Regions from separate parts of the Homo sapiens genome. Here all the other regions are linked to region 3. Evidence: fine-mapped expression QTL. Tissue or cell type: whole blood. Region 3 holds a variant in brackets; each other region holds the start of a gene. Each region is shown on its reference strand, or each on the opposite one.

Region 1 (8,176 bases), not on the chromosome of region 3:
GGGAGGCTGAGGCAGGAGAATCACTTGAATCCAGGAGGCAGAGGTTGCAGTGAGCCGAGGTCACGCCATTGCACCCCAGCCTGGGCAAAAAGAGTGAAACTCTTATCTCAAAAAATAAAAAATAAAGAACTGCCTACTGAGATAAAGGGTGTAAAAGACAAAGATTGTGTTATGAGACTCTACAATAGGGGGGCCTGGCCTTGTGTAAGACTAGGGGAGGGCTTCCCTGATGAAGTGATGTTTAAGGGTCTAAAGAAGTTAATTAGGCAAAGTGGCAATAATGAGGAAGAGAAGAGGAAGAGAGAGTCAAGCAAATGGAACAATATGTGGAAAGGCTCTGAGGCTGGAGCTCAGACAGTCAGGGGGAAATGGTCAAAGATTAAAGTGGACAGAGAGGCCTGGCCAGGGCCTTTGGGGTCTGGATTTTGGTCTTCATCTTGAGGGCAAGGGTGCCTATTGAAAGCTTTTAAGCAGAAGATCAACTTCAAGGAGGAGCCATTGGTGGAATGTGCATCTTGAAACCATCCCCCTAGATACAGTGTGGAGAAAGGACTGGAGGGAGGCTGAAGTTGAAGAGAGGAAGTCAATTAGAAATGGGCCAGGCCAGGCTGGGCGCGGTGGCTCACACCTGTAATCCCAGCACTTTGGGAGGCCGAGGTGGGTGGATCACCTGAGGTCAGGAGTCCGAGACCAGCCTGACCGACATGGAGAAACCCTGTCTCTACTAAAAATACGAAATTAGCTGGGCGTGGTGGCAGGCACCTGTAATCCCAGCTGCTCAGGAGGCTGAGTCATGAGAATTGCTTGAACTTGGGAGACAGAGGTTGCAGTGAGTCAAGATTGTGCCATTGCACTATTGCCTGGGCAACAAGAGCAAAACTCCGTCAAAAGAAAAAGAAAAAGAAAAAAGAAAGAGAGAGAGAGAAAGAAAGAAAGGAAGGAAGGAAAGAAGGAAGGAAGGAAGGAAGGAGCCAGGCCAAAAATGAAGGGGCTCAGGTTAGGAAGGTGACAATAGGGTGAGGAGAGGTGCACAGATTTCAGAGAAATATAAAAGGCAACATGGCGAGACTTGGTGATGAATCGGACTGGGTAGGGGGAGGGATAAGAAGGAGTCTCTGGTTTCTGCTGGTGCAGTGGGAGGAAACCGGTGCCCGACCCAGAGGACGAATGCTGGTGAGGCTGCAGGTTTGGTGCGGGGACAGGAGGGCTGGCTTGGACAAGCTGGTCTGAGCTGCTTGTGAGCCAGATGTTGAGACATCAGCCACAGAACCCTGGCCCACCTTGACAGTCTCACCGCTGAGTATCAGACAGGACTGTCAGGTCAATCAGTTTTAACGGTCCATCTTGGCCAAGCCCTGGAGTCCTCACGGGGGATGGAAAGGTGACAGGCTCTTTTCCTAGCTTGAAGGACCGCACAGTTTAGTAGACAGAGGAAGAAGCATAATTTCCATTCACTGTGTTGGAGGAAGTGGAGGAGCTGTGGGAGCAGGAAACAGCCCTTAGTTCTACCTGGGAGCCCAGGTCAGCAGCCTGCGGCCATCTGCCGCCACGTGAGACTACCCAGCACTTGCAGAGGGCTCCTGCTTCATGCCTTTGCCCCGGCACCCGTTCCATGTTTTTTGAGCACCCTTGTCTCCACTTCCACCTGTATGTATCCTACCCATCCTCAAAACCTATCCCAATGCTATTATCTTCATGAAGCCTTCCTAGGTCCTCCCCGTTGCTGTCAGCCTTCCTACTGTACCCCCACGCTTGCCACACGTAGCAATTGAGGCATGCTTCCTTGTGCCCAAGTCTGGCTCCCCACTAGATGGAGAGTTCTACCAGGGCAGAGGCGTGATTCTTCTGTGTCCCCAGAGCCGGGAACTGAGCAGGTACAGCCGCAGTCGCCGCATAGGCCAAGTAAAGGGGGCGTTTTCTCTGCGGTCCTTGGAAACACTTGGGCATGCTCAGTGTCGCCCATTAGTCCCTAGAACCAGTCCCCTCACCCACTACTCTCCAACCTTCTGATGCTCCCTCACTTTGGCAGTCTTTAACCTTTCAGGTTTTTCTCTTTCCCCACTCCTCGCCCTGCAGCCTTTATTTCCCAACGGCCGCACCCTCACGCTCCTTTCAGCGGAGAAATAGACCGCGCTTTGTGCGGAAGCTGTCAGCGAGCAAGCGTCCCGTCTCCTTTAAGAGTGATCCGCGAGGGGGTGTGGCTTGCGGAGAGCAGGCCCGAAAGGGGGTGCGGCTCCTTTAAGTATCCGCCGGCCCGAGGCGCGGAGGCCTCCGGCCGGCGGGCAGGGGCGCGGTCGGTCTGGGAGCAGCGGCACCGCCCGCAGCGTCCCGGTTCCTCGAAGTGGGGCGCGTCCGCTTTAATCGGGGAGAGAGATGTGGGGGCACGGGCGTTACATCAGCCGCCACGTGTGGGCCTAAGCTGGCGTGGAGGCGGCGGCCCCGCCCCCGGCCCCTGCGGTGGAAAAGTACCGGGGCGCCGAGGTCCCCGCCCCACGGCCCCGCCCCCGGGCCGGCACCGGCCCCTCCCGGCCCTCCGGGCAAGCCCCACTCTCCCGCCCGGCCCGGCCCCGCCGCCTGCTCGAGATCTGCAGTGGCTGCCGGGTGCGGAGCGCCGGCCGGGGGTGGGCTCTCCAGGGCTGCTAGGCCCCTGCCCTCACCTGCGGCCGCCCGGCCCCGCCCTAGGTGTGCCGGTAATGAGGGTTGGGGTGGGGAGGGCACGGATTCTTCCCAGGGTAGCAACCCCCAGAGAACTCCCGGCTCGCTCGCAGTCCCTTCCCAAAGCCGCGGCCAGAGCGCGGACAAAGAGAGGCTGAGTGCGCCAGGACTCTCCCGCGCGGCTTCCCGGGTCCCGCGGGCGCACGGGCACTGGAACCGGCACCGGGAGGGCAGATAGGGAGGCAGGCCGGCTGGAGGGGCCAGATAGGCAGCCAGGCTGGCGGGCGCTGAGAGGCGATGGAGCGAGCGGGAGCCCGCACGCTGGGTGCAGGCACGGCCGACTGTCGACCCCTGCAGGCCCCCAGAGCGCAGAACCACTGGCTCCTCGGACGGACAGTGCCACGCTCTGGCTCCGGCGCTACCCGCACAGCCTGCGCCCGCCGCCCCCGATCGAACCGGCGTCTGGCGCCCCCCCGCCACCCCACGCAGGAGCTCCCCCCACTTCCCTCTCCCTCCCGCTTCAGCTCCTTGGTGACAGCGGTGACACCCAGACGCGCGCACCTACCCCGATCTTTGCGGCGAGACAGACATCCCGGTGCGTGCACCCACACTCTTACCCACAGATGCCCGCATACATGCGCGATCACACACACACACACACACACACACACACACGCACACGCTGGTCCTGGGGCTCAGCCCCGCGGAGCCGCCGAACACTCAGACCGACGGCAGGACAGACGGAGGCGCGGGCCCCAGCGTCCCTTCCCCCAGCCCCCTTACCATGCTGCAGCCCCCGGCCCAGGCGTGCTGGGTCCGCACCGCGGTGCGCCCAGGTGGCTTTCTTAAAGGGAAAGTTGCATCAGCCTCCCGAGGCTCTGTGCCGCGCCGAGTTCGCCCGCCCCGCCGCGCCGCTCGCAGCTCTTCCACAGCCTGTTGTGTTTTGGTTTCGGGGAGGCGGGGGCTAAGAGTTTGGTGAAAGTTTGAAGAGTGGAGAAGGCTTGGGAGATCTAGCCAAGTCCCTCCCCTACCCGAACGGCTCCCCTGGCCGTCCTCCCCTCTCCATCCCATCCCCTCCTCCCGTGCCGACTTCTCAGGCTCCTCCTCCCAGGGAATAAAATTACAAGTCTCTCCAGCTTTCAGATGATTGATCCCCACGAACCCCTGGGAGTGAGCGCCACAAAGGAGTCCCCTTCTCCGCCCCTGCCTCGCTGCCCTCCAGCTGGGGCCCTTGAGCAAGCAGATGTGGGCCCCTTCGGGCTAGGCTGGAATGAAGCCAGAAGGCCTGGGGCACTATGGGGGGCTGAGGCTGGAGTTAGCCCTCCAGGCCCCTGGCCTTCTGCGCCTGCGTTTCCCCTAGAGAGAAGTCAGAGCAAATTCCATTCCCTTTGGAGCAGAGCCGCTAGAGACTGTGGGCATTGCTGGGTAAGGCCTAGGTCCTACTCCTTGGAACTGGAGGGCTCGGGGTAGCCCTTTCTCAAATTTCCCTCCTGGACCACCGGCTTGGTCAGCTCTACTTTTGAGGTGGTGTTACAGGGGCTGCAGACACCAACCTGGGATCCCTCCTCCTTCCATGGTGAGACAGACCTGGGTTACAATCTCAGCTAAAAAAGAGTCTTTGCCAAAAGGAGCATGGTGAGCCTCGGTTTCCTCCTCTGTGAAACAGAGAGAAGGGGCTAAGGAAATGCATGTGTGTGTATATAAAGCCCATTGCTCCAGGCTGCCTCTGGGGAGTGGTGGCTGGCATTTGGAATGAGCCTCCCACATTTGCATACCTTGTGAGAGCCACCACCTTTCATGGAGAGTGGCCAGTTAGTTCTGTCAGAGGAACTGGTTTTTGCCCCAACCTGAGTAGGGCATCTGCTCAGGGAAGGGGCCCAGCCCACAGAGGCAATTTCTACTTTGGACCCTGAGTCCTCACCATTTTCTGGCCAGGAAACAGTTTAATTTTTTTCCTTGGGACAGTCAGCCTCCAAGAAGCGAGTGCACACATGCCAAACTCACGTGAAACCAATTGTTGAGTGAGATTCCAGTTTATTAATTTATCAGAGGCACTGAACAAGATAACAGGCATCAAGCCCAGGCATTCCCTGAAATGCGAGCTCTCTCAGGCCACACGCGGTCCATTCCACAAACCTTCCTCAGAGCCAAAGTACAAAGACAGCTCTCTGTTGTCTCCTATTCACATTGGACTCCTGATCAGATCTGGGAAGACACCTTAGTCTTATCAGCGAGATTATTTTCACTTTTACTTTGTCCCCAAACCTAGTAGGTATAGCATGTTTGGGATTTTTAGTCTCCTACAAGCCAAGTGCAGGTGTTTCTTGCGTGAGTTGTGTGCACACACACCTGGATCTAGGCAACCTGTTGTGTCTGTGCCCCCAGACACCTGAGCCCCGATTGTGTATTTGTGTAGGTACATCTGTGGAAGACTGATTGTGTGCACTGCAGCAGGTCTGTGTAGTTATGTGTGTGCTCAATTCCTGGGACTGGGCAGATGGGGTCCAAGCCCTCTATATCTCTCCTGCCAGGACGTAACTTCCTCCATAAGTTTTTTTTAGGATCTTCCTCCTTGCCTCCTCGCTGGGGCTCATCAAAAGGGATACCACCCCAGGGAAGGCAGATGGAGGATGTCGAAGAGGCCCCCAAGTAGAGGAAGGCGGACAAGGAAGAGTATGAAGGGGAAAAGGCCTCCCTCCTTCTCCCTTCCAGCAGTAGGCTGGGGTGGGGACAGGCCTAGAAGAGGGCACTGAGCGCTAAGAACACTCAGTGAAGATTCCGAGAGTTTTCATGGCTCAGGGAATCCATATGAAGGGAGGCAGGTGTAGGGTGCTGCAAGCCAGACTTCCAGGATGCCCTCAGGCCTAGGGGCTTGGGGCCTGGGCTGTTAGAAGAGAGGAGGATGGGTGCTCAGGGGCCAGCCCTCTGAGGCTCCGTCAGAAAGAGGAAGGCTTGGGGACTAACCTAGGGACAGGGACGTGGGGTGAAGAGAAAATTTTCCTTGGAGTGTTTAGGGAGATTGGGGATGTTGGCCAGAGGGCTTTATTAGACTAACACTGGCATAGCTCAAAGTCTATTTGTATACATAGAAACAGATTCATGGATATGTGTGTTTTACCCACCTTGAACCAGAAAGAGCTTCAGGAAACCACACAGCTGTGTCCTGAGGAGACACTTGTGAGAAAGATTCTGGTTTGAAAAGTCATCTTCCTGAGACAGGGACTAGAGAGGCTGTTTTTTTCCAATCAGAATGAGGCCCAAAGGAGGCAGGTTTGGGCCCAGCCCGGGTGGGAGCTGGGATAGCCTCCGTCCCTGGCTGTGAGCCCCTGGCTCTGAGCAGCTGGCCTGCAGGGTGGGAAGGGCATGGCCAGCCTGGGCCACTGTGGGGCGGGCAGGGGGATCAGGACTGAGGACAGACTGGGGCAGGGGAGGGGATGGGGGACGGACGGGGTCAGACATTTTGACGGGCCTGCTTCTTCCTGGGGCAGGGCAGCAGTTGGGCTGGGGCCCACCCACCACCCACTGCAGGCTGAAATGTGGCTCAGGAGCCTCCAGTTACTGCAGCCAGTGGAGCTATTTCCTGGGAGGGCTGCATCCAGCGTCAGAGCCCCCAGGGCTGGCTGGTTTCCTCGAGTGGTGTCATCAGCCTGCAGGATCAAGGCCTCTGTTTCGAGATGCACATAGTCAGCTTAGGTGTGTGTCTAGTAGGAATATGAATAATGCCAGACTTGGGCCACTTCTGGTGGTCACTGCAGGAGCTGGCAGCACTGGGCACCTTGATGGAGTGGTGCTGGGGGCCTGCTGAGAAGGTGGGGGAGGGTGGACATTGCCTGTAGTTGAAGCCAGGCCTGGCCAGGGGTCTCCACCTCCTTAGAACCCCAGCCTCAGTAGCCAGGAAGCATTACTGGGAGGTGCCTGCCTGGGCTCTGCTCTCAGATTCTTCCTTTCTTGAACCTGGAGCCCAGTGGTCAGTGCCTGGCACCTCCACTGCCCTGTCCCAATGCAGAGGAGCAGGTTAGATTGGTTTCAGACCTGAGAGCTGTCTCTGGGGCTCCAGGTACCCCTTAGGCCATCCTGTTGTGGTTTCTCTACCCCTGAAACCCCGCCACCCCAGCCCTGCCACCCCAGCCTTGGGGCAGCATAAGCCAATCATGGGGTTCAGAACAGGGGTTCCGGGCTGGACCTCAGTGGCTCCAGGTAAAATCAGGCATATAGACAGGAAGTATTGACTTTGGCGTTGTCCAAGGGGCAGCCCCAATCTCCAGAGCTTTCAACACCCAGACTCCTCAATCGCTTTGAGCTCCCAAAGTCCTGAATTCCCAATGTCAAGGGTGCCAGAGCACCCAACACTGTAGAGGACCCAAAACCCAGAGCCCCCAGTGCCAAATTCCAGGGGGCCTGGGGTACCCAACATCCAGAGCACCCAATGTTCATAACATTCCATTTTCAGAGTGCCAGTGTTCCAATTCACTGCACCTGGAGGGAGGGAGTGGGGTCCCTGCATAACCAGGGTCCCTACATAACCGAGGTCCCTTCAGTGACCTATTATCTGAGGAGTGGCCATGACTGAAGTTGGGGCTGGGGTGGTGCTGGCAGTTGTAGTTCTTCCTCGATGCTCCCATCCTGGGTCTGGAGAGGTCGAGCAGGCTTGCAGGTGGGATGGCGTTCCCTCTGGCCTCAGCCCAGCCTGGTCACAGGCCCTGTGGCACTGAATGTCCATTTATTCACTCACCAAATATTAGTGCGCATCTGCCATGTGCTGGGAATTGAGCTCCTCTCTGGGAGTACAACCGTGAGAGAGAAGGGGTTCCTGTTCTCCCAGATGGGACAGGTGACATTGTGCCTGTGCTGGTATGTCCGTGTGGTTCAGCCATCTGTGGCCCACGTGTAGCTGTGGGCATGGCTATGAGAATGAATGGCTGTGAGTGTGATGGTGTTGGCGTGAGGCTGTGCCTGCAGCCCACATCAGCAAGTTAATGTGTGTGACTATTATGGTGGGTCTGGCTGTGTCCGTCTGTCTGGCCATCCTAATAATCTCTCTTTGCCTCACTGCTATTTCAAGGATTGGAAGTAAGGCCCCCCTTCCCCTCAGACCCGAGGTACTGAGGGTCAGGCCTCACTGTAGGGAGGAACAGGCTGGTTCCTGAGCTAGAGACTGACCCCAGAGCTGCCCTGCTGCAGGGCTAAAGATTTCTCCTACTGCTCCTGCCCCTGCTGGACCCAGAGCCTCTTTGGATTGGGAAGACAGGAAGAGGGGTGGCTATAAGCCGAGCAGTCGACACCAAAAATAGCCATCTGCCCTGGGGAGGATCCTCTGGCACCACTCTCTCCTCCAGTCCAGCCCAACCCGGCCCACTGACTTGGAGCCTCAGTAGGGCTCCTGTCTGACTCCACTTCCCCAACTCTTATCTGAGTAACCCTCTCAGACTCAAAGGAGGGACACAGCAATGATGTCACTACAAATTATGGCATCATAAAGAGCTCTGGCAGCATCACAAGGAGTGACCCCAGACCGCGGGCG
Region 2 (8,176 bases), not on the chromosome of region 3:
CCAGGCCTTATTGTGTTTTTAAAACAGCTTTCTTAATATATAATTAATGTACAATAAACTGCACATAAAGTGTACAATTTGATGAGGTTTTTGGTCTTTTTTTTGAGATGGAGTTTCACTGTTGTTGCCCAGGCTGGAGTGCAATGGCACGATCTTGGCTCATCACAACCTCCGCCTCCCAGGTTCACGTGATTCTCCTGCCTCAGCCTCCCGAGTAACTGGGATTCCAGGCATGTGCCATCACGCCCAGCTAATTTTGTATTTTTAGTAGAGACAGGGTTTCTCCATGTTGGTCAGGCTGGTCTTGAACTCCCGAACTCAGGTGATCCACCCACCTCAGCCTCCCAAAGTACTAGGATTACAGGCTTGAGCCACCATGTCTGGCCAATTTGATGAGTTTTAATACATGTATATACCTGTGAAACAATTACCACAATCAAGATAATGAACATATTCCTCACCTCCATGAGTTTCCCTGTACTCCTTTGTAATCTACCCCTCACTTCCCTACTGCCATGTTCCCAGGCAGTTAGTCTGCATTTTCTAGAATTGTATTTTATTTGAGATGTGATGTCACTATGTTGCTCAGGCTGGAGTGCAGTGGCCTGATCATAGCTCAACCGTGTTAGCCAGGATGGTCTTGATCTGCCCGCCTGGGCCTCCCAAAGTGCTGGGATTACAGGTGTGAGCTACCACACCCGGCCACATTTAAATATTTCTAGTTAATTTTTGTATATGGTATGAGGTAAGGATCAAGGTTTAGACTAGGCGCAGTGGCTCATGCCTGTAATCACAGCACTTTGGGAGGCTAAGGTGGGTGGATTACCTGAGGTCAGAAGTTCGAGATTAGCCTGGCTAACACAGTGAAACCCTGTCTCTACCAAAAATATGAAAATTAGCCGGGCATGGTGGTGCACACCTGTAGTCCCTGCTACTTGGGAGGCGGAGGCAGAAGAATCACTTGAACCTGGGAGGCAGAGGTGGCAGTGAGCTGAGATCACGCCACTGCACTCCAGCCTGGGTGACAGAGTGAGACTCCATCTCAAAAAAAAAAAAACTCAATATTTATATTTAGACAGGCATGGTGGCTCACATCTGTAAGCCTGGCACTTTGAGAGGCCGCGGTGGGAGGATTGCTTGAGTTCAGGAGTTCAAAACCAGCCTGGGCAACATGGCAAAACCCTGTCTCTACCAAAACAACACAAAAATCAGCTGGGTGTGGTGGTGCGTGTCTGTAGTCCCAGCTACTCAGGAGGCTGAGGTGGGAGGGTGGCCTGAGCCCAGAAAGCAGAGGTTGCAGTGAGTCAAGATCTCACTACTGCACTCCAGCCTGGTGGACAAGGCCAACTCTCTCTCAAAAAATAAAAATAAAAATTAATTAAATACATATTTACATTAAAATATTTCCAGTTGATTTTTGTATATAGTGTGAGGTAAGGATCAAGGTTTTTTATTTTGGATTTTGTCTTTCCATATGGCTATCCAATTGCTTCAGCACACATTTGTGGAAAAGAGTATCCTTTCTCCATTGAATCTCTTTGGCAACTTCATTGAACATCAATTGATCATATATGTGTGGATCTATTTCTGTTCCATTAATCCATATATATTTACATATTTATGCTAATACCATTACCGTAGCTTTAAAATAAGTCTTGAAATCACAGAATTTAAGTTCTCTTTTGTTCTTCTTTTTCAAAATGGTTTTGGCTATTTTAGGTCTTTTGCATTTCCACATAAATCTTAAAATCAGCTTGTTAATTACTGAAAAAAAAAAAAGGCTGCTGGGGCCAGGCACAGTGGCTCATGCCTGTAATCCCAGCACTTTGAGAGGCTGAGGCGGGCAGATCACCTGAGGTCAGGAGTTCAAGACCAGCCTGGCCAACATGGTGAAACCTCATCTCTACTAAAAATACAAAAAATTAGCTGGGCATGGTGGTGTGCACCTGTAATCCCAGCTACTCAGGAGGCTAAGGCAGGAGACTAGCTTGAAACCGGGAGGCGGAGATTGCAGTGAGCCGAGATCACATCACTGCACTCCAGCCTGAGTGACAGAGTGAGACTCCACCATAAAAAAAAAAAAAAAAAAGCTGCTGGAGTTCTGATTGGAACTGCACTGAATCTGTAGATCTCTTCCTTGCAGGAGGTTTTTTTCTGATTAATCCTGGTTGCTCCAGCAACAGTCCTCAACTCATCAATGAGCCCACCTTAACTTAGAACAGGACCAGTTTCACTGCAGGTCCTTAAACCTGTTGCTGCTCCTTAAACACCCTGTGAATGTACACACCTCCAGCCTTTGCACATGTTATTTCCTTTTTTTTTTTTTTTTTTGAGACAGGGTCTTGCTTTGTTACACAGGCTACAATGCAGTGGCCCAAACATGGCTCACTGCAGCCTCGACCTCCCACGCTCAAGTGATCCTCCTGCCTCAGCTTCCTGAGTAGCTGGGACTACAGGCACACGCCACCACACCCAGCTCACTTTTGTATTTGTGGTAGAGACAGGGCTTCGCCATGTTGCCCAGACTGGTCTCGAACTCCTGAGCTCAAGCGATCCTCCCACCTCAGTCTCCAAAGTACTGGGATTACAGGCATGAGCCACCACACCTAGCTCTCATTCTCTACTTACGTCTACTGGGCTCCACCATACTCACCCTCAGCTCAAATATTACCCCTCTATGAACATGTCTCTAACCCATCCCAGACCCTGGCTGAATCATTCATTTGCCTGGGTTTCACACCACTTTGTCCTCATCTCCCTCACAGGCACACAGAACTTTTAATTACTAGTTAATATCACTTAAGTGGCCGTTACTTGTTTATACATCTTTCTCCCCTATTAGATAAAACTCCTTCAAGCAGGGACCATATTATTTCTTATATTTTGAATTAAACCTTTTGAGATAATCATAGATTCATATGCAGTTCATAAGAAATAAATACAAAAGAGATCCCATGTACCCTTTTCCCAGTTTCTCCCAATGGTAACATCCTTAAAAACTTTAGTACAATAACACAACCAGAAAATTGACACTGATACAATCCACTGATCTTACTCAAATATCCCCAGTTTTACATGTATGCCGTGTGTGTGTGTGTGTGTGTGCATTTGTAGTTAAAGACATCTTTTTACTATTTAAACTTTAACAATGACATTAGGACGTTTTGGAAGTAACGTAGTAAAGGCAGTTAAGCAAGCTACTTAGGGTATCGTTGGAGCCCAGAAGAAGCACCTAGTCCACTTTTGGAGGAGTGGTGATGGTGAGGGAATGGGGAAGGACGTCAGAATATGCCTTGGTCAAGGCCCGCTACTAGTAGCTGCTCAAATAACTGCGTTAAATTATGTTGAACCCAACGTTATTTTCCATGTTTTCTTATGCAAATCCTCGCATCCCTGAGTGTTCCATTATTTTCATATTTATTTGGCAGGTGGAACATTCGAGGCTGGGAGCCCTTACATGCCCCGCGAGAGGTCACGCAGTTAGGAAGTGACAGGAGCGAAGTCAGCCCAAGTCTGCTGACTCCAAGCCCAGTGCTCTCTCCCCCTAATGGCGGTACGCCGTGCACATATCCTTACCACGTATGCCTCATCCCTATTCGGAACTTTGCCTCCAACCCTCTTCCTGTTTTCTTGGCTGTCTTACAAGGGAGCCTTTTCAGGCAGCAACTCCAGAGAGAACCGCCAGAGCGTGCAACAGCAAACACTAACCAGCCCAGCCGTCAGCCACGCAATCATCACTCCCTGGCCCAGTGCGCGGCAGAACTGGCGCAAGCGCACGCCGGCAGGTTGTACCCAGAATCCGGGCCCTTGCCAGACGGGGGCGGAACCGGAAGTCGCTGTACATCTCATGGTTGCTAAGAAACGGAGCTTCCACAAACCAGATAGAGGTTCTCCAGCTTTTCTTTGATTGTCTCTGCTTTAGCGTCTCTAAATCCGGTCACCATGTCGGACCCCGAAGGCGAGACCTTGCGAAGCACCTTTCCCTCTTATATGGCCGAAGGCGAGCGGCTCTACCTGTGCGGGGAATTTTCTAAAGCCGCGCAGAGCTTCAGCAACGTGAGTCGAGCTCTCAACCTATCCATCACCCCATCACCCGTCACTTTTTTTTTTTTTTTTTTTTTTTTTTTTTGTGACGGAGTTTCGCTCTTGTTGCCTAGGCTGGAGTGCAATGGCACGATCTCGGCTCGCCGCAACCTCCGCCTCCCGGGTTCAAGTGATTCTCCTGCCTCCACCTCCCAAGTAGCTGGGACTACAGGCGCGTGCCACCATGCCCGGCTAATTATTTTGTCTTTTTAGTAGAGATGGGGGTTTCACTGTGTTGGCCAGGCTGGTCTCGAACTCCTGACCTCGTGATCCACCCGCTTCGGCCTCCCAAAGTGCTGGGATTACAGGCGTGAGCCACTGCGCCTGCCCCCTGCCCTCACCTTTTGATTGCAGATAACACTGAGGTCTTGATGATGCCTGGAGGACCCTGTTGTTTCTATTATTCACTGATTTTTGATGGACACACTGCTGTCACAGATAAGCCCTGTGGTTGGCCATTTTCTACCAGTTCCCACTTGCAATCTCCATTCTCTGCGTTAACAGTGACCTTTTCCTCCACTTTTACTTAAATGTTTCATGATTAACCGGCCTCCTTCCACAGAGCAGCCTTACCTTCCCATCATTTGCTGGCAGATTGGATGGGAGGTTGCATGCAGAAGCCTCAATGTCCCCAGCACACCGTTGCTTATAAAAGGTGGCCAGTAAGCAACATATGATTATTATTATCAATTTTGAGACAAAGTTTTGCTATGTTGCCCAGGCTGGAGTGCAGTGGCAAGATCTCAGCTCACTGCAACTTCCGCCTCCCCAGGTTCAAGCGATTTTCCTGCCTCAGCCTAGGGAGTAGTTGGGATTACAGGCATGTCCCACCACGCCTGGCTAATTTTTGTATTCTTAGTAGAGACAGGGTTTCACCATGTTGGCCAGGCTGGTGTCGAACTCCTGACCTCAAGTGATACACCTGCCTCGGCCCCCCAAAGTGCTGGGATTACTGAGGTGAGCTGCTGCACCAACCAGCAACATTATTATAGTAACCCTAGTATAAATTGCATCATCCCACCCTAAGGGGATTGGGTGATGGTTTTTGTTGTTGTTGTTGTTGTTGTTGTTGTTGTTTTGGAGACGTAGTCTTGCTCTGTCTCCAGGCTGGAGTGCAATGGTGCGATCTTGGCTCACTGCAACCTCCACCTCCTGGATTCAAGTGATTCTCCTGCCTCAGCCTCAGGCACACTGCTAAGCAGACTGGATTTTTGTTGTTGTTAAGATGGAGTTTTGCTCTTCTTGCCCAGGCTGGAGTGCAGTGGCGCAATCTCGGCTCACCCCAACCTCCACCTCCCAGGTTCAAGCGATTCTCCTGCCTCAGCCTCCCGAGTAGCTGGGATCCCAGGCATGCACCACCATGCTCGGCTAATTTTGTATTTTTAGTAGAGACGGGGTTTCTCCATGTTGGTCAGGTTGATCTCGAACTCCCCACCTCAGGTGATCCCCCCCCACCTCAGCCTCCCAAAGTGCTGGGATTACAGGCGTGAACCACCCCACCCAGTGCATACTCAATTTTATAGATTAGGAAATATACAGAAGTTGAGCAACATGCCCAAGGTCGCTAAACTAGCAAGTGGCAGAGGAAGGATTCAAAGCCGGGCTCAGACTCCAATGCTGAGGTGCTAACCACAAAACTACACATCTGACATCTGCATAAGGAAACTGTTGTTTTTTTTTTGTTTGTTTGTTTTTTCAGAGACAGGATCTCGTTCTGTCTCCCAAGCTGGAATGTGGTGGCACAATCACAGCTCAATACAGCTTCAAACTCCTGAGCTCAAGTGATCCTCCCACCTTAGTGTTCCAAGTAGCTGGAGCTACAGGCTTATGCCACCACGCCTGGCTAATTTTTTCTTTTCTTCTTTTTTTTTTTTTTTTTTGTAGAGATAGGTGTTTTGCTATGTTGCCCTGGCTGGTATTGAACACTTGAGCTCAAGTAATACTCCCGCTTTGGCCTCACAAAGTGCTAGGATTACAGGTATGAGATACAGTGCCCTAAAAACATGTTTTTATGACCATTTCTTTTGCTCCAAATTGCCCACTTCTTCTGCTCCAAATTGCCCACTTCTTCTTCTAGATGGAGTGATAGGATAACCCTGTAGTTTTGAGACTTCCTGTAAGATCAAGCTTCTCAACAGCTCCCCAGAGTCGTTTGTCCCTTTCAGTCACCAACCACACCCTAAAACCAGAAATGATGACCAGATAAGTGAACAATTGAGTTCGGTAGCCCTGTCCCCACTTATTCTCCTCCTGCTGGATCATGTCCCATCCTGAAGTACCCACCAGCAGAGAAAAAAGAACACCCTGAGGGAAGGGTAGCCTTGGATGAGAAGCAGTCACTTTCCAGAAAGACAGTAGCTACTTCCTCTTCTTAGAAAAGTAGGAAGGTCTTAGAAAGGGGTGGGTACCAGGAGACAGAGGGTTGCAGTGAGCCAAGATCATGCCATTGCACTCTAGCCTGGGCAACAAGAGTGAAACTCTGTCTCAAAAAAAAAAAAAAAAAAGACCAGGTCAGGTGGCTCATGCCTGTAATCCCAGCACTTTGGGAGGCCAAGGCAGGTGGATCACCTGAGGTCAGGTGTTTGAGACCAGCCTGGCTAACATGGTGAAACCCTGTTTCTACTAAAAATACAAAAAATCAACCGGACGTGGTGGCGAGTGCCTGTAATCCCAGCTACTCCGGAGGCTGAGGCAGGAGAATTGCTTGAACCCGGGAGGCGGAGGTTGCAGTGAGCCGAGATCGTGCCATTGCACTCCAGCTTTGGCAACAAGAGCAAAACGCCATCTCAAAAAAAAAAAATTAGCCAGGTGTGGTGGCGGGCACCCGTAGTCCCAGGTACTCGGGAGGCTGAAGCAGGAGAATTGCTTCAACCCGGGACTCGGAGATTGCAGTGAGCAGAGATCGTGCCACTGCACTCCAGCCTGGGTGACAGTGTGAGACTCTGTCTCAAAAAAGAAAAAGGGGGGTGGGTACAGTTAGATGCCTCAGGAAGGACAGTACACCACAGACTATGGTAATCATCTCACACAGAAAAGAGGACACTGGGAGTGGGGATATTGCCCTCAACCCCACTTTAGGGTCAAAATCAGTTTCATTTTCCTAGCATTTTCTTTTTTTTTTTTCTTTCTTGTTTTTCATTTTTCTTTTCCCTTTCTTTCTTTTTTCTTTCTTTCTTTTTTTTTTTTTTTTTTTTTGAGACAGCGTCTCACTCCATCACCCAGGCTGGAGTGCAGTGGCATGATCTCAGTTCACTGCAACCTCTGCCTCCCAGGTTCAAGCGATTTTCTTGCCTTAGACTCCCGAGTAGCTGGGATTACAGGTGCTTACCACCATGTCTGGCTAATTTTTGTATTTTTAGTAGAAATGGGTTTCACCACGTTGGCCAGGCTGGTCTCAAACTCCTGACTTCAAGTGACCCACCCACCTTGGTCTCCCAAAGTTCTGGGATTACAGGTGTGAGCCACTGCACCCGGCCTCTTTTTGTTTTGTTTTGTTTTGTTTTTTGAGACAGAGTCTCATTCTGTCACCCAGGCTGGAGTGCAGTGGTGTGATCATGGCTTATGCAGCCTCGACCTCTCCAGGTTCAAGCAATCCTCCCATCTCAGCCTCCTGAGTAGCTGGGACTACAATCATGGACCACCACGCCCAGCTAATTTTTTTGTATTTCGTAGAGACAGGGTTTTGCCATGTTGCCCAGGCTGGTCTCAAACTCTTGGGCTCAAGCGTTCCGCCCACCTCGACCTGCCAAAGTGCTGGGATTACAGGTGTGAGCCACCACTCCCAGCCTTTTCCTGGTATTTTCATCTTAATCCCCGGATATAGTGATTAGTTCTTGATTAGCTACATAAAAAGAGAAGGCTACTGGAATGGTTAAGCCACATGGCAGATTGTCCTCAAGTCCACTTCAGAATGCTTAGCCTTTGAAATTTGCTTTGAGTATGATGTGTTGCCATTTCAGGTTTGTAGTTGAGTTTGGTGTGCACAAAATACCCTACAGTTCTATTGCCTGAGGGGACTGAGGGGCTCTCAGACATTGGTGGAAAGTCAGCGTATCCACAGAGCAGCATATTCCTACTCTTCAGCCAGTGGCTT
Region 3 (8,176 bases):
GTTGGAGCCCCCAGTCTGCGGCCCTTTGTCAGGGCAGCCCTGAGCAGCAACACTGTCCCCCTCTGCGTCTCCATGTCACGGCAACCACGTGGGGAACAGGGATTTTGAAGGACATCATTTCTGCACACTTACTTAAAGAGATGCTGGCAAAGCCCTTTTCATGAGTAGACACAGTATGGGAGAGTCCCTTTGATGTTGTTTGTATTGCGCAGATAGTGATAGAAGGTCATGGCAATCATTTTCCTGTGTGATCAGTAAGCTGTCTCTGCAACCACCTCCCAAAGAAGCCATTCAGAATAGTTGAGGCAGGGATGAGATCTCTGGAGTAACTGTGTCCGAGGCATGGTGCTCCCTTCCAGGGATAAGATCAAGTTACTTTGTTTGAAAAAATCTAATGAGAGTCTCATGGATTTATTTTCTTGCTTCCTGAACTGAACTGAGAAGGAAACCATAGGGAGGATTTTTTGTTTGTTTTTTGAGACAAAGTTTTGCTCTTGTCACCCAGGCTAGAGTGCAGTGGCGCAATTTCAGCTCACTGCAACCTCTGCCTCCTTGGTTCAAGCAATTCTCCTGCCTCAGCCTCCCAGGTAGCTGGGATTACAGGTGTGCACCACCACCCCCAGCTAATTTTTTTGTATTTTTAGTAGAGATGGGGTTTCGCCATGTTGGCCAGGCTGGTCTCCAACTCTTGACCTCAGGTGATCCACCTACCTCAGCCTCCCAAAGTGTTGGGATTACAGGCGTGAGCCACCGTGCCCGGCCCATAGGGGGAATTTCTAATGGAAGCATGGATGGAAGTAGGCAGAGGACAGAGTAAAAGAAAGCTTTAAAATGGAACTTGCTCATGTGTGTTCAACTGCCTGTGAGTGTCCATGCACTCTGGACCAGCATTCTGGGTTGCAGAGACGGAGATGAAGGTGCCATGTGGCTGAGGGCTGTGGGTCATAGGCCCTGTAGCACAGTAGTCACACATGTGGACTTGGAGCCAACCTGCCTCCACCACTTGGCTGTGTGAGCTTGGGCAAGTTCCTTGACATCTCTGTGCCTTGGTTCCCCATGATGTTACATGGAAGCCCTAGCAGTGCCTCTCACAGGGTGATGTTAAGGCTCCAGTGAGTAAAGCATGTGGTGCTCTCGGCACAATGGAGGCCGCACAGTAAGGCTTTACCCTTCTGGCTTGTGGGTGAAGTCAGACCCTCTGAAAAGCAATAACTAACAATGCCAAGAGTATCCTAATGAGGGCACATGAAGGGCTTTGGAAACCCCGCATGGGGAGCCCGAGACTTGGCCTACAGTGGGTGGGCACAGATGAACCCTAGGGGGGCCTGGGGAGCTGACTCCGGAACACAGATCCGAGCCTGTTCTGGAAGGGACAACCCCTGTTGGCAAAGAGGGGACAAGGGGAGCCTTGTGAAATACTGCCTGTTTGGGGAAATGTGGGGAGTTTGTTGTAGCTGGGGAGAAGGCTGTGTTGGGGAGGGTGGTAAGAAATGTGACTGGAGAGGTTGAGAGGGTCCAGCCACAACTTTATCCCAAGAGCAAGGGGTTTAGCAGGAGGTGGTGTGGTCAGATCCGCAGCTTAGAATGACTGGCTGCTCCTGCTGCTGGGAGGAAGCTAGATTGGAAGGACAGAGGCTGTAAGCAAGGAGACTCGTAAGTCCAACAGGAGATGATCAGGGCCCTAACGGCAGTACTGCAGAGGCACCACATCCCTTCCCCTCCCTGAGCACGCGGGGAGGAGACCGTCTCCCGGAGTGCATTTCCCAGCCTCCTTTGCAGTGAGCTGAGGGGCCGCAGGACTGAGTTCTGACTAATAGAATGGGGCAGAAACGATGTAACCCATTTCAGGCTTGGCCCTTAACATCTTGCAGGACCCTCTCATCTGCTCTTACTTTCTGCAGCAAATTCAGAAGTACTGGTTCCAGATGGCAGAGCTACAGCTCGAATTAGACGAGATCCCAGAGTGGTGACCTAGAGGTGAGTTGCCAGAAGACCAGCCCGGCCATCCAGACACTGTGTTCAGCCACTGAGATTGCAGGGATATTTGTTACAGCAGCATGACCTAGCCCACCTGACTACGCCAGGAGGACTTGGGGCACTTGGAGAATGAGCAGGACTGGGGGAGAGAAAGGAGTCTAGGGGTGACTTCCTGGATGACCAGGTGAATGGTGGCACCATTAACTGTGGCAGGAGATGCTGGGTGCTAAGTCAGTACTTCTATCTTAGACAAGTGTGTTTGATGAGCTTAGGCAACAAGCAGGAACCCCCTGCAATACGTGCATGAAGCAGCATCAGGGAAAAGGCTAGAGCTGTGGACTTGGGTTTGTTGGCCTCCAGGTGGTCGCTGATGTCTTGTGGAAGGAAAGAGAGTGTCTGGGAGTGCCTTGGAGTGTGCAGGGCAAAGGACACTAATGCACAAGGAAAAGAAAAGGAGAAGGAGCCGGTGAAGGAGCCAGAAAGAGTCTGCTATTCGGGAAGGGGAAGAATGAGGAGAGGGTGATCAATGCCAAGATGCTGATCAACAGGCAAGTCTGATGCAGACCAAATGCACGCCCTGGATGTGGCACACAGTAGGCCCTGGAGGGGCATACAGAGCCAAGCCGGGTCAGGGGATGGAGGGCGGGCACCAATACCATGGTCTGAGACATAAAAGGTGCAGTGGGTGTCCCCGGGAGAAGCCCAGCCCAGAAGGGAAGGAGGGAGGTAAGGGAGATGCTGAGTTGAGAGATGCTCATGCCAAACAGAGAGAGATGGCAGAAAAGCGCAGCAGAGGGGAGGTTGGAGAAGATATAGCAGAGAGAGGTGGCACTTGGTGCAGAGACATCTAACCCCAAGGAGCAAAGGGCATGGTGAGAGATGGAGAAGAAAACCTCCAACTGCCAAGACCTTCCCAGAGCAACGTTCCCCCGACCCCACCCCAGAGGCTTCCAATTCCCTAAGATGGCAGCCAACTAGGGCTGCCGCAGCCTCTCCAGTGTGCCAGCCTGCTGGTGTCAGAAACCATTCAGCCCCATGGCCCAGGGACCAGAGGTTTGTGCCCTCTGCACGTGGCCCTGGTGCAAGGCCCTTGGCTGGGCACCGAAGAAGATAACAAAGTGTTTATGACAGTCGCAACCCTTCAGGAGCTAAAGCAGTCCAGGAGCAAGATAAGGCAAGTTCAGAAATAACTCATCTGCAGCAGACAGATAACTGGTAAGTGCCAGGGAGAGGAGCAGATAATGTGTGAGGGAGTTCACAGGGAGA[C/T]TCCCTCCTGCTGGAAGAGATCAAGAAAGAAACACTGACGCAGGGCCTGGGGACCCAGGCCTAACCTTTGCATGCCAGTGTCTCTGCCGGGTTCTGGAGTAAATTGTCTCTCCTTCTTCTCGCCGGGGCTCCCTTCTCCATCCCATCAGCTCCAGCTCCTGCTCCCACCGTGGTCAGTGAGCTCGCGCTAGATGAGCATCCTGTTCCTCCGATCACCAGCAGCATCAGAAATCTGATGCATGAACAAGAGCAAAGTCACAGGGCTCCATAGACACCTCCTGGGATTGGGGCACAGACGGAACTTGAGCAGGACTTTAAAAATGAGCAAGTGTTAACAGCTCATGGCAGTCGGCAAGACTGGCTACAACCACAGCACCTGCTCTGACAAATACAGACCATCCTCCTTTATCAAGTCCTCCCTGTTGGATAACGAAAAATCCAACAGGTAAAGTTTGCTTCTCAGATCTTCTGAATAGTCATTGAATTCAGGCCATAAAATAATGTCAAACGCTTAAAAAAGGGAAGGGAATGAGGCATCTTGCGTACTGCACAGAGCAAACTGAAAACCCAGATTTATTTCCATAATGTGAATTTTTAAATATGATACTGAAATGGGCACAAAAGTCAATAACTTTATTAAAATGATTTTGCATTTCTTAACTTGATCTTTTCTGACACTACCCTTTGGAGTCACAGATGAGAAAAGCAAGACACATGACATGTGGTTCTACCTAAGGCAGCAAAGTGAATAGTGGAAAGACAAGCTTGTTCCAGAAACAGCATGGCGGGGAAGGGTGTCTGTCGTTCTAGATCTTTCCAGCTGACTCTGGGGAAAGGATGCAGGGAGAAGAAAAGCTCCTTCCAGGGACTGCCATTTTTCTGTGTGTACATGAGCTTCCGAGGGACGGTGGTCACCTCCAAGGTGAAATTTGTGAGCCACACACTCAAAAAAGGTTGGCGGGCCCGGAGGGGAGTCCAAAGGGAAGCCCCTACACACACAGACATGGAGATGTGCTTGCCTTAGGTCATGAGGATGCCAGAGCGGCTTCCTATGATTATTCAAGCCTGATGGAATTTCACAACTGGTGCGAGATGAGCGCAAGGTGTTTAGACACCTTGCAAGAGCTGGAATGCCAGGAGGGGCGGCCGGGGGGCGGTCTCCTCCAAAATTCAAACCCCCAAACAAGTCCGACTTTCTGCAGACAGCTCCTTCGCCATTCAGTAGGGACCTCTCCCCCAACACGGGACCAGCCCCTGAACTTGAAAATCCTACTTGGCTTCCCTCACCCCAAACACATCGGAGTCGCAAGCCCCACCAGGCCCGTTTCCAAGCCCCCACTCCTGTGTCTCCAGGAACCACTTGCCTTGTCTTGCCTTGCCTCAGAAGCATCATTTGGAAGCAGAAGCCTGTGGCTTCATTTCTTTTTATTTTAGAGCTGATCTGCTAGAAAAAGGTATTTTGCGAGGCGCAACGGAGGTAGAATGTCTCGTCAGCTAGCCACTTCACAGACATATGGCCTGCTATCCCACCAGTTAGGAAGTGATTATTGGAGCTGCACAAACAGATTTTTTTGTCAAAGTGGAGGTGTGATTTTCTCAGGTTCTGTGAGAACACACACACATATTTTTACCAACCCAATCTGTTTTCCAGCAGCCGGGTGGCCGCAGGGCCTGGACACCCGCTTGGTGTTTAGGAGTCATGAAGGGTGCCTGGCGAGGTCCCTGGAGGCTGCAAACCTACCTGGCAGGAGCCAAAGACCCCAGGTTCATTCTGTGACCACGAACAGAGCCTCTGCCTGCCCTTACCTGTGACAAGAGGGATGGCCACGAAAGCTGCCTCCTTGCACACAGAACCAAGCACCAGCGTTCACCCTACTATGCATCTGAGAGCCGGGACTTTTTTTTAAACTCACCACTGCTAGTTTAGTTCTAAAATCTCTTTGAAATAAAAATTAAGACACACAAGAGATACTAGGGTAAAGATGGCAGATGAAACACGTTCCTTTACTTCCATTCTCTCTCTAAATCCATCAAAGACAAACATTTTGTTTTGTTTTATTTTACAGTGTAGCTTTGTGCTATGGAATGTGGTAGCCCCTAGCTACACGGGCTACATTTACCTTTTTATTAAATCAATTCTAAACTTCAGCTTCCAGATCACACTAGCCACATCTCAAGCACTCAGCAGCCTCACAGGGTTAGTGGCTGATATACTGAACAGCATAGAAAAAGAATGTTTCCATCAGCATCACAGAAAATCCTATTGAACAGCACTGGGACGGAACCTCCAGGAGCAAAATCTCGGGAGAACACACTGGTAAAATGCCGGAGGCTGGGAAGGGAAGAGTGCGTGGGGGCTGGCTGAGCACGCAGGATACAGCTGAGCCCTACACCAGGATTGGGGGGAGCCAAGAAGCCAACTCACCCTTCGCACTCAAGGAGGCCTGAGCAGGGGCAGCGGAGGAAGCTCACGTGCCCTCACTCATAAAGAGAAAATTCTACACTAAGGTCATAGACTTTATTTAAAGGTTAAAAAAAAAATCCTTCTATTCTCTGCTTTGACAAATATACCTTCTTGGTGATGTAAAAGGCCCATGTGTTAGTTTCCTAGGGTGCCATGACAAAGTACACACACTGGGCGGCTTAGGACCACAGACGTTTATTCTCTCACTTCTGGAAACTAGAAGTCCAAGATGAAGGCGTCTGCAGGGCTGGTTCCTTCAGAAGGCTGGGAGGAATCTGTTCCTGGACTGTCTCTTAGTGTCTGATGATGACCGGCACTCGCTGGCGCTCCCTGGCCTGGAGATACATTTCTGCCTCCATCTTCCTATGGCTGTCCTATAAGGATACCCATCATCTTAGACTAGGACCCACCCGACTCCAGTATGACTTTATCTTAACTAATTATACCTCCAATGAACCTATTTCCAAATAAGGTCATGTCCTGAGAAACTGGAGGTTAGGACTGCAATGGATCTTTTTGAGGGGACACAATTCAACCCTTAACTGCAGGTTCAAATGGATAGTCCTCCTTGGACTTCTCAGTTCGGCACCAAAACACAGCAACATGGGAAGATCCCTGATCGTGGCCCATTCCCCTTCCTTCCCAGCCCAGCTCCATCCTGCACCTGAGGGAGCTTGCATGGCTCCATCCAAACCTCCCACAACCCCTTGCCCCCAGCCACTCCTCAGCCTAGGTGGCTCACACTGGCAGCATGGTCCACTCTGGAAGGAGGGCTCTGGAAAGAGCCCCCCCGCCCCGGGGCCCAGGGAGCAGGGTTGGGATCCTTTGGACAGGGAATTCCAAGGCCTCCTTTCCCTGGAGAATGTTCTAGAAGGAGGAATGAGGTGCGCACTCTGAGTGGGCATGTCCTCTTGGCCCCTGAGAAGGGGCACAGCTAGAAGAGGGAACATACACTCTCTGAGGCCGTGGCCCAGGTCTAAGGGCATTCCTGCCAAGAAGCAGCCAGGTTTACCAGCGGAACCCAAAGAGGGCTCAGGATTTGGGGGTGTCCACAACTTCTGAAAATGAGAAGGAACCTGCTCACAAAGTAGTGAGGTGCACAAATCCCCTTTCCGACACCAGCAAAAAACTGAAGGCTTATTCTCTGGAGAGGAGACCAGGTCTCTAGTTGGGGAGATCCCAGGCACAGCTGAAGGTCAAGGCACCACACAGAAGTAGCAGATTAAGGGAAGGTTTGTATATGGAATATTGACCTGCGATAGCCCTGCTCCAGCCCTCTTCTCTCTCTCGGCCTTCAGAACGTCTAGGTTGTCACTTCCAAGAGAGGATTAAAGGGCTTTTTTGAGCTCAAGCCAGTGCAAGAGGAAAAATCTAAAGATGCCGATATTGGTAGTTCCCCAGGAAAATAGTCCAACCAGATTCTTTTACAAGGAAGTCCACAATCAACAATCTTAATCACACATTTAGTGCTTCCAATCAACTTTTCATGCCCCACTCTTAAATATAAACCAGTGACTGAGGGTCTCAGCTGAAGAAAGCCCCTGACATGAGAGAGCGTGACCAAAACAAAGAGAAGAAGGTAACTTGGAGGAAACAGAGATTATGCATAGAGAAGAGAGAGTATAAAACAGGAAGCTATTATCAGTATCCTCAGATAGACAATCAGAGATGGCATCCAGGCACAAACACGTTTGTTTGTTTGTTTGTTTGTTTGTTTTTTAAAGAATATTTAGAGAACAGAAAGAATAGTTGTAAGCTTAAAATGCCGTGTTATAAATGTAAAGTTCATTCGAAAAATTAGAAGACAAAACAGAGGAAATAGAGAAAATAGAGCAAAAAAATGTAAAATTAGTTCAAGGGGTTCAACATATGAAGACAGAGTTCCAGAGAGAGAGAGAGAAACCAAGGAAAAGGTGGGAAAGGAAAGCATCATGACATAGTTTAGGAAATTTCAGAGAACTGAAAGACATTAATTTCTAGCCCGAAGGACCCAATGAGCACCCGCCCATATGACAGATGAAAAGATACCCAGCCTAAGCCACCCGCATAACATTTACAAACACTGAGGACAAAAGACAATCTTACAAGCTGACAGGGAGATACAAATAGGTCTTCTACAAAGGATCATGAATCAGAATAATTTTGATTCTCAAGACAAATCCTGGATGCTAGACTACAATGCAGCAAAAATCCAGGGGAAAATGATTTCCAACCCTGAATGCTGTACCAAACCCATTATCAACTAAGTGTGAGGGTACAATGGAGATGATGTCAGACATTCAAGGTGTCCAAATATTTGCCTCCCACGTCACAGGAATGATCAGGAAATTTGCTCCACCCAAATAAGAGAAAACCATGAAAACCAAGCCCTGTGTCCCTTGACTTTCTACTTACCAGTGAAATGCGGGTCTGAAGGATTTAAAATGTTGGGTTTTATCTTTTTTATTTGTGTGTGTGTTTGTGTGTGTG

Evidence for each region. PIP is the estimated chance that this variant, and not a neighbour inherited with it, causes the effect.
Region 1: it holds the start of SLC6A9, and the variant in region 3 is fine-mapped to the expression of SLC6A9 in whole blood (TOPMed, PIP above 0.99).
Region 2: ODAD4 starts here. The variant in region 3 is fine-mapped to the expression of ODAD4 in whole blood (TOPMed, PIP above 0.99).

The regions. Positions count from the first base shown.
Region 1 is chr1:44,027,868-44,036,043 of GRCh38, forward strand. SLC6A9 (solute carrier family 6 member 9) reads right to left here and starts at 3,595. Exons shown (of 14, transcript NM_001024845.3): 1 at 3,439-3,595. It overlaps LOC107984948 (a long non-coding RNA gene), which reads left to right and starts at 2,547. Exons shown (of 2, transcript XR_007066054.1): 1 at 2,547-2,682. LOC124904168 (a long non-coding RNA gene) reads right to left here and starts at 7,907. Exons shown (of 4, transcript XR_007066055.1): 1 at 7,816-7,907; 2 at 7,388-7,558; 3 at 5,778-6,453; 4 at 4,676-4,860. RefSeq lists enhancers at 970-1,529, 1,530-2,087, 2,729-3,325, 6,844-8,176 and silencers at 2,197-2,746, 3,067-3,136.
Region 2 is chr17:41,926,782-41,934,957 of GRCh38, forward strand. ODAD4 (outer dynein arm docking complex subunit 4) reads left to right here and starts at 3,836. Exons shown (of 12, transcript NM_031421.5): 1 at 3,836-4,056. The coding sequence starts at 3,943. It also overlaps a transcript of ACLY not described here. RefSeq lists enhancers at 2,959-3,862, 3,575-3,664, 3,845-3,944.
Region 3 is chr2:8,612,810-8,620,985 of GRCh38, forward strand. The region is part of intron 1 of LOC105373411 (a long non-coding RNA gene); the gene reads right to left. Among named protein-coding and RNA genes, the nearest start is that of LINC01814, 33 kb to the left of the region's middle. The variant C/T (reference allele first, on the strand shown) is at 3,244.